Homo sapiens: one gene and its partners. The protein of the gene in region 3 purifies or fractionates together with the protein of the main gene of each other region. This does not show direct contact. Each region holds a gene or a part of one and is shown on either strand. Other genes may lie near its edges. The genes, in order: PLXNA3, CD109 and SCGB1D1.

What was found.
Region 1: the proteins of SCGB1D1 (region 3) and PLXNA3 purify together in Homo sapiens (co-immunoprecipitation; 3 studies listed by BioGRID and IntAct, with this or other methods). This does not show direct contact.
Region 2: the proteins of SCGB1D1 (region 3) and CD109 purify together in Homo sapiens (co-immunoprecipitation; 3 studies listed by BioGRID and IntAct, with this or other methods). This does not show direct contact.

The regions. Positions count from the first base shown.
Region 1 is NC_000023.11:154,461,160-154,464,807, reverse strand, and holds part of PLXNA3 (plexin-A3 precursor), read right to left. Parts: coding exon 3,170-3,648; intron 2,681-3,169; coding exon 2,498-2,680; intron 1,418-2,497; coding exon 1,289-1,417; intron 1,219-1,288; coding exon 1,118-1,218; intron 858-1,117; coding exon 734-857; intron 652-733; coding exon 495-651; intron 407-494; coding exon 307-406; intron 55-306; coding exon 1-54. UniProt on the Homo sapiens protein: Coreceptor for SEMA3A and SEMA3F. Necessary for signaling by class 3 semaphorins and subsequent remodeling of the cytoskeleton. Plays a role in axon guidance in the developing nervous system.
Region 2 is NC_000006.12:73,762,153-73,765,800, reverse strand, and holds part of CD109 (CD109 antigen isoform 1 preproprotein), read right to left. Parts: intron 3,418-3,648; coding exon 3,321-3,417; intron 3,061-3,320; coding exon 2,919-3,060; intron 2,226-2,918; coding exon 2,116-2,225; intron 1-2,115. UniProt on the Homo sapiens protein: Modulates negatively TGFB1 signaling in keratinocytes.
Region 3 is NC_000011.10:62,188,615-62,192,362, reverse strand, and holds the start of SCGB1D1 (secretoglobin family 1D member 1 precursor), read right to left. Parts: upstream 2,148-3,748; 5' UTR 2,079-2,147; coding exon 2,024-2,078; intron 308-2,023; coding exon 120-307; intron 1-119. UniProt on the Homo sapiens protein: May bind androgens and other steroids, may also bind estramustine, a chemotherapeutic agent used for prostate cancer. May be under transcriptional regulation of steroid hormones.

The DNA of each region.
Region 1 (3,648 bases), on a different chromosome or scaffold from region 3:
TGGCGGTACTTACACCAGTGGCAGGGGTAAGGGCTGCCAACACAGGACATGCACCTGGGGGGGAAGTGGCTTCAGAAATAACAGAGGAGGCTGCACTGCCCCTCACTGCTCCCCAATAGGACACATCGGGAACTGAAGGAAGAAGGCAGCCATATCAGGGGACAGAGAGATGTGGGGATGTCAGGGGCTATCAGGGCCTGACAGTTAGCCCCTGATGCCCCAGAAACAGCTGCCCTGAAGGTGTCGCCTGTCCCAGAGGTCCCCTCTATCCCCAGGGGTAGGGACGGGTGCTGGCCAGGTACTCACGACTGGAGGACGCTGCAGTTGTAGAAGACAAAGTCAGCACCGGCAAACCTCACGCCTGTCTCCTTGGAGAGAAGCTGCAGCCGCACAGTGCGGGTGGCCCCTGCAGCAGTCCCGGGGTGGCCGTGAACTCGCTGGGGGTAGGGAGAGGCCCCACTCTGCCCCATCCTGGGCAGCCCCAACCCACTGACCATGCCCCCTGGTAAGAGCTCGGAGCTCCTGGAGGGAGGGTGAGGGGCAGAGCAGTTCACCGGAGGGCAGCAGGACCGCCTCGTTCTCCGCCGCCGCCTCGAAGGCGCAGCTCACGCCCGCACTGAGGTCTGGCACGTTGTGCAGGGTGACGGTCAGCTGGGGGAAGCAGAGGGCTCAGGGCAGGGCGGACTCCCAGCACACATGTGCACACCCAGCCGGGCACCCCCAAGCTGCTCACCTGCACCCCAGGTGACGTCACTGACACATTGTTGGGCCGGACCCGCACCTGGACACACTTGCTCAGCTCCTCAGCAAAGCCGTGTGGGGCAGAGGCGCCCAGACAGGCCCCTTCGCGGCAGCACCTGCACGGGGTCGGGCCAGAGCCGGTCCCGCCACTGCCCCGGGAGGGCCCAGGCCTGTCCAGCTCACAGTGCCAGGCAACAGCGAGCCTTGGCCGCGTCCCCTGGGGCCCGAGGGACGTCACTCGGGGTGGAGGTTCCACTCATTAGCTGGAGAAAGTGGAGGAGGGCGGGGGGAGGCCGCAAGGGCACGGCTGGGTGTGGCTGGCTCCCCCTGGCCAGTGGGGCCCTCCAACTCCCCGAGCAGGGGTCCCCGCCCTCACCTGTGTCGCAGCACACACCAACCACAGTGCGGGTCCCCGGAGCCCAGGCAGGCTGCGCAGCTCTGGTACTGCTCACAGGTCTCCACCGGGAGCTGGCTCACCTGGGGACAGCCACATCAGCACCCAGCCCACCCCCGCCCCACCACCCACCGCCACCCACCACAGGCCCACCTGCTTCTCACTCAGGAGATAGATGTGCCGGTGGTCCGGGCTGAAGAGCAGGTCTCGGAGGATGGGGCTGCCATCCACCACGGGGACTGTCTCATACAGGTGGGCATCCTGGAAGCCATCGACCCGCACCTGAGCCACAAGACCAGCCTGATGCCACCACAGCCTCCTGCACCTGGGACACTGTCTTCTCCAGCCAAAGACTTTGGAGGTTGTGGCTGAGCTGACGTCAGGACCTGGTGGGGTTCAGCACTCACACCCACAGCCCGGAGGCCAAAAAAAGGAGGGTGCAGACGCCAGAAAATGCCCTCAGCAAACAGAAGGACGGAGTGATTCGTGTTGCCCAAGGTCAGGGGATGCAGGGGAGGGGAAGAGCTAGAAGATGGCATTGATTAGGAGAATGAGGTAGTGGCGATGGTTGTGCCACTCTGCAGATCCACAGAAACCCACTGAACTGTGCACTTTAAAATGGGTGAATTGGATAGTACGCGTTCAACAAAGCTGCTACAAAGGAAAAGAGGGTCCCAGGAACAGAGCAGGTGGGCCAGGAGAGTTCATCATCCTTCTCCACAAACCCTTCCCTGCGCCCCCAGACCAACACTTGCCCTCCTGGGGGATGGCACTGCATCTACGAGGCAAGCAGGATGAGAGCACTGCAGTCCCCCGACTCCTACCTATTCAACACGTACCTGAGTGCCCAGAAGTTCATCTCCCCCTTCATGCCAAGCTACCCCCAGATCCCCAATGGAAGCAGCTTCAGCCCCCGGGCCCATGGGTAGGAGGGGAAGGATGGGAAGTAGTGAGCCAAGGAGAGGGCAGGGGCAAGTGGGTCTGTCCCAGGCATAGGGAGGCTTGAGGGGCAAGGCATTTGCTCCCTTGTTCATTCAACAGAGGACCCAGCAATGCTGGCTCAGCCCCAGGCCTGCTCTCGTGGCAGGGAGACTCCACAATAGGTCTGTTCTCTGTCCCCAGAGCCATACGAAGCTGGCAATTCAGTCCACAGTGGGAACTGGCAATGGTGAGGGTGGGCGGCCAAGGGGCGACCCGAGGAGCAGGGCCAGGCGCCTGGGACCCAGCCAGGGAAATCTCCCTCCCTGCACCAGCCGTGTCCTCTCCTGTCCTGTCCTCAGAGCTCTCCCGTGTGTTCCCACCAGCCTTGTCCCATATCTGAGACTGTCCCCACCCCCACATGCCCAGGGCTCTGGGGGCCACCTTCTTCAAGCTGCCGCTGCGCGTGCCAATGAAGACCACAGAGTGCTGGCGGTAGGTGTAGGCGGCCACGCTGGCCATGCCGTCGGTGCTGTCGGCCAGCAGGGGCAGCCCCTCGATCACATGCAGGCCTCCCAGAGGCTGGTTCAACACCAGCCCACAGAAGTTGCCGTTGATCTGCATGGGCTGGTGAAACAGAGGAGGAACCCGTGAGAGTCAAAGCTCCCAGGCGCAAGATGGAGGCCGGCAGTTCCTGTGTCCCAGAAGAGAGCGGGATCTAGAACCCGGTCCCCTCCAGCCAGGACTGACTGCTCGCCCTAGGGTGCTCCAGGAAATTGGTGGCTGCGGAGGGAGACAGAGGAGGGACAGCAGGGAGCGAGGAGCGAAGCCTGGGCCCACAAGACTCTTGTTGGCTCAAGACAAGGGGCAACCGGGAGACGGAGCAAGGAGGAACGAGCTGGGAACGGAAGGAAGCAGAAGTGGGGCACTGGGCAGCCCAGAGAGAGGCAAGGAGAGGGCAGGGACCCCTGGGAGGGAGAAACAGGTGGGAGGGCAAAGGTGCCACTCCCAGGGCCATGGCAAAGCCTGGGACAGGATGACTGGCCGTGAGCCCACGCTGGGCATGGTAGACCTGGGACAGGGCAGAGGACCAGTGTGGGGTGATGAGGGGCTCACGGTGTTGATGCAGGGCAGCTCCTTGTTCAGCAGCCAGGGCAGAGCCAGAGTGCCCTCCCCACGATAGCAGGACTGGATGCGGCGCCGGATGTGGGCATTGATGTTGCTGAGGGTGAAGAGGCAGAGGATGGTCTGCCGGGGTGGGCTGGCCCGGTTCTTCTGGCCCTGAGAGAAGATGGTGAAGAGGACGTCCTCATCAGCCGGCACGCCCAGGGCCTGGGCCAGCAGCAGGCCAGGCTTGGCCAGGTGGGCGCTCTGCACCAAGCGGTACTCCACGCCGCGCCAGGAGCAGCCGATGGGGAATTCCACGTATGAGTAGAACTCTGAGTCTCCCGCGCACATGCGCACGATCTTGGACGTGAAAAATTTCTCGCCCGCTGTGTCCAACAGCGTCTGCTGGGTGTCCAGCTGCAGCGTCAGGAAGTACACGAAGGAGGCGCTGACGAAGCCGTAGATGTAGTAGATGTCAAAGGCAGGGT
Region 2 (3,648 bases), on a different chromosome or scaffold from region 3:
AGTGGCCTCTCTCTAGGAGGCATCCAACATCACTGATTACTCCCTTGTTAATATTATGGATTCCCTTAACTTCCGCGGCTCCAAAATAACCCCCTTCACTTCCTACCTCTCTTTCTGCATCCTCTCAGTGTCCTTTTCAGTTCCTCTTTCCTCTCCCTAAATGTGGGAATTTTGGACATCTGTTCTTCTCCCTTCCTCCAAGGTCTCAGCAATCCTATTGCTTAGCTTGTCATCTCTGTGATTGTACCCTAAAGCCAAAATTCCCATCCTTGCCCTTCTCTGGAGTTCATGCCCAACACCTCCAGTTACCTGCAGGAAATTTCTACTTGGATATCCTGGACACCTTGAATTCACATATCTAAAATGAGCAACCATGTCATTTTCCTATTTTCGCTAACATCAGGATTTTGCAAGACTTTACATTTCTGAATTTTCCCTCCCTCTCCCCACCCCCCAAATCCAATGAACACCAAAGTCCTATGCTTCTCTCTTCCATCCTCTCCACTCCCACAGCTACCACCACAAGGCTGCCCATCCCCTCACTCCTGGGCTACAGCCATCCTCCTGCACACAGCCTGAGCAGTCTCCCTCAAACACTACCTGAGTGCACCCCGAAATTGCCAGCCAGACCTCTCCTTCTTGTCTCACTTCTTATCTTGCTCCCCACCTCCCACTCCCATGCCCAAGCATTTAAAACACAACTAATCTTTTAAAAAACAGTTTAGACCATCCTCTTCCATAAAGCATCCCATAGTAACCCCCATGCCTATCCCACAGCCAACTCTCCCCCTCTGAACGCCCATGGTTTCACTCTACTCATTCAGAAATTACCATTTGCAGCCTCAATTTTTTAAACTGACCTTTTCAAACTGCCTAAATTAAGATCATTGAAATCAGAAACTACCTGAAACGTCTACCGACCCATTCAACAAGTGACCCCTCCATTCTTTCTTTGTCGTTTTAGTTGTTTTTTTTTTTTTTTTTGAAATGGAGTTCCACTTTTGTTGCCCAGGCTGGAGTGCAATGGCGCAATCTCCACTCACCACAACCTCCGCCTCCCGGGTTCAAGCGATTCTTCTGCCTCAGCCTCCCGAGTAGTTGGAATTACAGGCATGTGCCACCACGCCCGCCTAATTTTTTGTGTTTTTAGTGGAGATGGGGTTTCTCCATGTTGGTCAGGCTGGTCTCGAACTCCTAACCTCAGGTGATCCGCCTGCCTCGGCCTCCCAAAGTGCTGGGATTACAGGCATGAGCCACCACGCCAGGCCTGACTCCTCCTTTCTTTAAATCAGAGATCAGCCAACTACTGCAAGCTGATAGGCCAATCCAGTATGTTTGTAAACAAAGTTTTACTGGAACACATTCCACTCTCACTTATTTATAAATTGGCTATGGCTGCTTTCACACTACAATGGCAGGGCTGAGTAGCTGTGACAAAGACCACATGGCCACAAAGCTGAAAATATTTACTCTCTAGCCCTTTGCAGAAAAAGTTTGGCAACCCCTGCTTTAAATCCCTACAGAAATTAATTTGTAACACTAATCTTAATCTGCCATGAGTTATAGTTAAGTATATATTTTCCTGTCACCATCACAAAAACTGTGAACCTGAGGGTAGGGACTGAGCCCTTCTTGGCTCTATAGCCCTGCCCAACACCATGCCTTGCTCATTGTCAACATTCACACAATTAATGTGTTAATTCAACATTATCTCCAAAAAATGAGATTTGTTGATAATTTTTTAATGTAACATCTTTGTTAGAACTACAATTAATCATTATAAAAACCAAATTGAAATTGAAATTTTTGACTACCATGTAATTATTTCAATTAATTAATAAAAGCTTCAGTGTAGCAATCCACATCTAACTTAAATTGCTTGTAAAAAAAAATACATTTTCAAAAAATATTTTTACTGTTGTTGAAAACTACTTTTTTAGAAAAAATAGACAAAGGTCATTTGGAAACAAATCTACATGCCCCACATGTCTAAAGAGACAAAGTTATATACTTTTTGGCTTAAATTTTTAGAAAAGCATTGAAAATATTATTTCCCATTCTATTTCATTAAGCTGAACTTACTGCTATGGACTGGAAATAAATATACCAACTTACAGTGGCTGTGAAGTTGAGAGATGGCTTCAAGACAGTAGTATAATCAAAAAACTCAATGATGTAATCATGTTGCTTGAAGAACACATTAGTGCTTACATTTCTTGAAATACCTTTTTTGGAAATTGCACAATTTAGAAAGCAAAAGTAATGTTTCACCCAAAGCTTCTATCCACCAAATCTCTCCATCTAACCTATTGCAAAAAGGGTTAAAAATATCAGGGCACATAAGCCTCATTCCCATATTGACTTTGACACTACAAGCACCACACAGTTCTATTATGTTCTCTATGGATCCCCTCTAAGCACCATTGCTGCCATTCTACCGCAGTGACATGTACAACAGCAGCAAATTAAGGCCAATGAAAGAATAGTCTTTTGCTCTTTCAGGGATTGGCTAAAGTTGTTGAAATAGTAACAGAAAGGTCCAAGAAACTCAACTTTATTTTCTTATTAAAAGTGAAAACTGTCTAGGAACAGCTGAGATTTCAGTGATTTTAAAAAGAAGAAGGTTACCAGCTGAAAATGTAAGCCTTTCCATGTAGTTTTCAGGGGGAAAGAGTAGAAATGGAAAAAAAAATTAAGAAGAGCTATCACATGTGGTTGAAGTAGTGACTTTCATAGAAAATAAGGTCCCCCTTATAAAATCATCCTGCAACTTAGACTAACAGTCATAACAATTTCAACATTAAATAGCATCTTTAGAAAGTCAATGATGCTCCCAAATGAAAGTGCCAGTTATAATAAGAAAGATGATAAAGCAGTGTCACATGAATAGTTTTACCTCCACTTTAAAGTCTACAAACCTGTAACTGATTCTGTCACTGTGGTTAAAATTTCTACTGGTCCAGGGGAAGATAGATCCAGGTATTCAGAAAGTCCATTTGAAGAATCCATTACATTTTTCATCTCTTCATCATTAAAAGAGAAGTTTGCAGATCCATTTATCTGTTTTGTTTAAAAGTTCAGTATTATTTACCATTTTAGCAATTCAAATTTTAGAAATAAAACTCAAACTAAGTCACAACAATATGATAGCTCTGGTACCATTTTAATCGCTATAATTGCATAAATTCTCATTTGTTCAATGCTGGAAAGCTCTTGATTTTCTTACACTTAACTTTTTGTTAATTCAGTACTAAATCTTATTTCTAGAAAAATACACATATTTTACCCATCACAAGTTATAAAGTGTCTGCAAAAGTTACCTTAAATGTTTTTGTAATATTTTTCTTCTTTCCCCAAAAGGATAAAGGTAAAAATGTAAGCGTTACGTCTCCTTTCACTGGCTTCCCATATGTATACCTGAATAATTATAAACATAGTCTTTTTATGTATCAACTTGATATTGTCAGAACACAATAAAAATACTACTTTCAATAGCATACATTAGCAATTAGCAATCTAACATTTTAAAAAATTACATTGGGCTGGGAGCGGTGGCTCACGCCTGTAATCCCAGCACTTTGGGAGGCCGAGGCGGGTGGATCACGAGGTCAGGAGTGCAAGACCAGCCTGGCCAACATAGTGAAACCC
Region 3 (3,748 bases):
TGACCAGTAAGGCAGGTGCCCCACCACCTGTGTCCCTCACAGAGCAGCAAGCAAGCTGACCTCACTTCACACTGTGCCGCTGACCAGAAGCCTGGACACATGAAAGAGACAGAAATTACCAATGTTTTTGTAATTAGCACTCTTTTCTCATAGGCCATCGTATCCACGCATTTCTTCACTTCCATCTTGGCTGCAACAGCTTCCAGAGGTGCCTTAAATTTGGCAAGTTGGAACTTGAACACAGGTTTTCCAGCTAATAAGAAGCCTGTGATTTCAGAACCAAGAGCTTGGCAGACCACTGCATTTGCTGGAGCAAAAGAATAAAAATATAATTTGTGTAAGGAAATCAGTGTTTCTCCCATGCCTCCCTGATGTCAGACCAGACAGGAACCCCAGGGTTTTAGGCTTCTATTCAATAACTATGCCAATGACAATGTCAGACCCAGGAGGTTGTGACTTCCTTGAGGTCACACAGCAAAGGGTAGAGCTAGAACTGGAGAACCAACTTCCTGATCACTCATTCAGTCTTTGTTTTTTTTTTAAAGCACACTCATTACTTTCCAAAGCTTCTCTGGATGGATGGCCAACGTTCTCTTTTCTAGATTTGAAAATAATCACTTTTCTATGCCAGTTAAGTGACACTTTATTAGTCTTGGACATTGGTGAAGAGGAGGCTTTGAGTAATCAAATTTTGAAGTGGAATGGTAGAGTCAGAATCCTATCAGAAATTAGAGAAATGAGTAAATCTGGAACAGAAGAAGTTAAAATTATTGAAATGTTGAAGGTGATGTTTTGAGAACAAGTTGTAGAATTTAGGCTTATGTGATTCAATACAGACAGAGCTAAAAGGTAAACAAATTAAAACAAAATAAAATAATGTGAATCAGTTTTAACACACATTAGAAGCTTATACAGGAAATTGTACTTGGCCCATATTCTGCAGCAGCATCTAGAATATTTGGAGAGGATGAGAGGAGGGAACTGAGGCTCATTCCTGCTCCCACTGGGAATTTTGGAAAGACCTGGAGTAATCATTTTGCTTGGTCTGGAATCTCCATTCACCTAAGTCTTTTGCAAACACCATGCATCCAGAAAGCGCCCCACCATGCTCAACATGACCCCTGACTACCCGACTTCAAACTGTGGGGAGAATTTGGAGAGGGTAGGATCGGGGTGTCACAGGGAAACAGGGAGAGGTTCAGAAAAGAAGAGGAAAGAGAAAAATCAGAGTCTGGATCGGTCCTGACAGGGGAAAGGAAAGTACCCAAATGAACTGGGGAAAAATCAGCCAGAATTAATTTTAGAAAAATAGAAGTTCTGAGGCTAACCATTGTAGTATTTCTACCACCATTACGGTAGGACCCCTAGAAGATATATTGAGTGCTGCTTATTCTAAGAATTCATTTGCAGGCTTCTTATTGAGAGAATCAGAAAGCACCATCTCTTCTTGGACTGAGAGTTCTCCAAGGATCCTTCGAGATGTAACATTTTATGAGTCTGAATTTACAATGTAAGAAGCTGTGAGCTCAATTGGCACCTAAAGGTCTGGGGACGAGAATGTCTGACAGTACAGTGATTGGCTTCACATCCACAGCTAGACCCTTGGCACAATAATCCCACTCCATTCCCATTGCCACTCCCGGAAGAAGCTCTAAGCACCAGAGATAGGAGGAGGCGCGGGGAGGGTGAGCATCTTGCCCACGGTGAAAGGGCTGAGAAGTGGCTGAGCCCAGAGTCACCCCAGACCTCACATTACATCATCTGACACAGATCCCATCCAAGAGTGAAGCTCAGGCAGAATTCCTAACGTTCGCCTGCATTGATTTTCTGCAAAACTTCCTAGGTACTGGGGATTTGATGAAATGAGGCCCGAGCTTTATGAGCAGTTCCTTCAACAAGCACAGGATAAGGTTTGGAATTTTGGTTTGTTCCAGACCCCAACCTTAACCTTAATAGGTGACCTCGTGCTCAGAGAAGGGTGTGTCCCAAGGGCTGGTGCTGGACTCATGACTGATGTACTCACCCCGGTAGCAGCAAAGGGCCAGCGTGAGCAGCAGGAGACACACCGACAGCCTCATGGTGGCTTATTCTGCTGTGAGCTCGGCTTTAACCAATGATGAGTGATTTAGACTCAGCCCCGGGAGCCTGTGGAGCCGTGGAGCCCAGGGCTATTTGTACCTAGGGAGCCTGGCTGGTCCTGCCCACATGGGCATCTGGCAGGTGATGAGGCCTGGCTTCCAGCCCTCCCTTCCTAGCCAGGGCTGCTGCCATCCATCAGTGTCACATCCCCACACCTCCCTGCATCCTGAGTGGGGCGGAGCACGGGAGGGCAGCCCTGCAGAAACTCTGCTCTGTGCTCCAGGTGAGTGTCCAGGTGCCTCTGGCAATGTTCCCTGGAACCTCAGTTTGCTTTTGGGCTTTTGAGGATTATCTCTCTGTTCTTTATGTCAGTGCAAGGGCAAATGTGAGTTCTCATTTCAGGAGGACAGAAACCGGGGGTGCAGGAAGCTAGGGGCTGTGGTTTGGTTATAGGAGAGCAGGCACAGAAGAGACCCCACTTTGACCTCCACTGCATGTCTGACAATCAGCCACACGTGTTTCAGCTGCACATAGATCAAGTCTGAACCAGACCTATCCTCCCACTCAGCCCCTTCCATCCCCACCATCTTCACCACATAGGTACCTAAAACATAGCTGCATACACCCCACCTTTGGAGGATTTCCTTGGGGAAAACAACCACTCCCCCTGTCCTCTACTCTGTCTCACTCCAAGATCTGTGTCTTTATTTATGGGTGGAGTTGTCAACATAGCACAGGTTCAAATTTTCTGTCTACTAAAAGCAAGCCTCCAGTGACCTCTAGCCACCCATATCTCCTCATAGGGCTGATGGGATGATTAAATTGCCCAACTTTTTTTACCCAAGGAGCTGCTGGGGTGTCTGGAGGCAAACAGGCATCAGAAATACTGGTCTTCGCTTCTAGGCAGGGACGATAATGGAAAGGAAGAGATGGATGAACAGGGTGGGTGGTCACTTCCCTCTAACCTCTGGGCTCAAGTTTTCCACTTCTAACCCAGCTCTGCTGCCTGGGTCATCTCATTGTTGATGGAAAGCGAAGGCCATCCCCAGCAAAAGCAATAGACACCCTTCTGCCCTTCCACTGCAGTGCCATCATTTGGTGAGTAGGAAATCACCAGAAATTTGGCTCTTAAGTGAACACACATTTGAGAACAGTCACAGCCCAGGCCAGAGCTTTCCATTCTCTGCTCTGCAATCAAATCACTTGGGGCTCTTAAACTATACTGACTCCCCGCAGGCTGCTTCCCTTTCTGGGGATTTTGATTCAGTAGTTCTAGGGCGAGGTCCTCTTCTGTTTAAACTGCTCTGGTGGGTCTGATGGGCAGCAGTACTGAGAACCACCCAGAAAGACCTTTATGAAGGAAGCGGACCTTATGGTCTGTGTCATCAGAGACACCTTGGCAGGTCTGGCTGAGTCCCAGCTGAGGGCGACAATGCCTCTCACTTCCATCACCCAAAATGGTGGGGAAGCCCCTGATGCCACCTCTGCCTCCAACCCTAAGGAGTGGAAGGTCCAGTGGCAAAGCCCATGGCTAGGAGGGTTCAGATCCATGTCTATGGGCTATTGAACCCTCTGAAAATTAGTTTATGTAAACACAGTTTTCTCGTTTGTAAAAGTAGGTTAAAAATGGTGCCTACATCATTGGGTTGATAGATGTTCAAATGAGTGT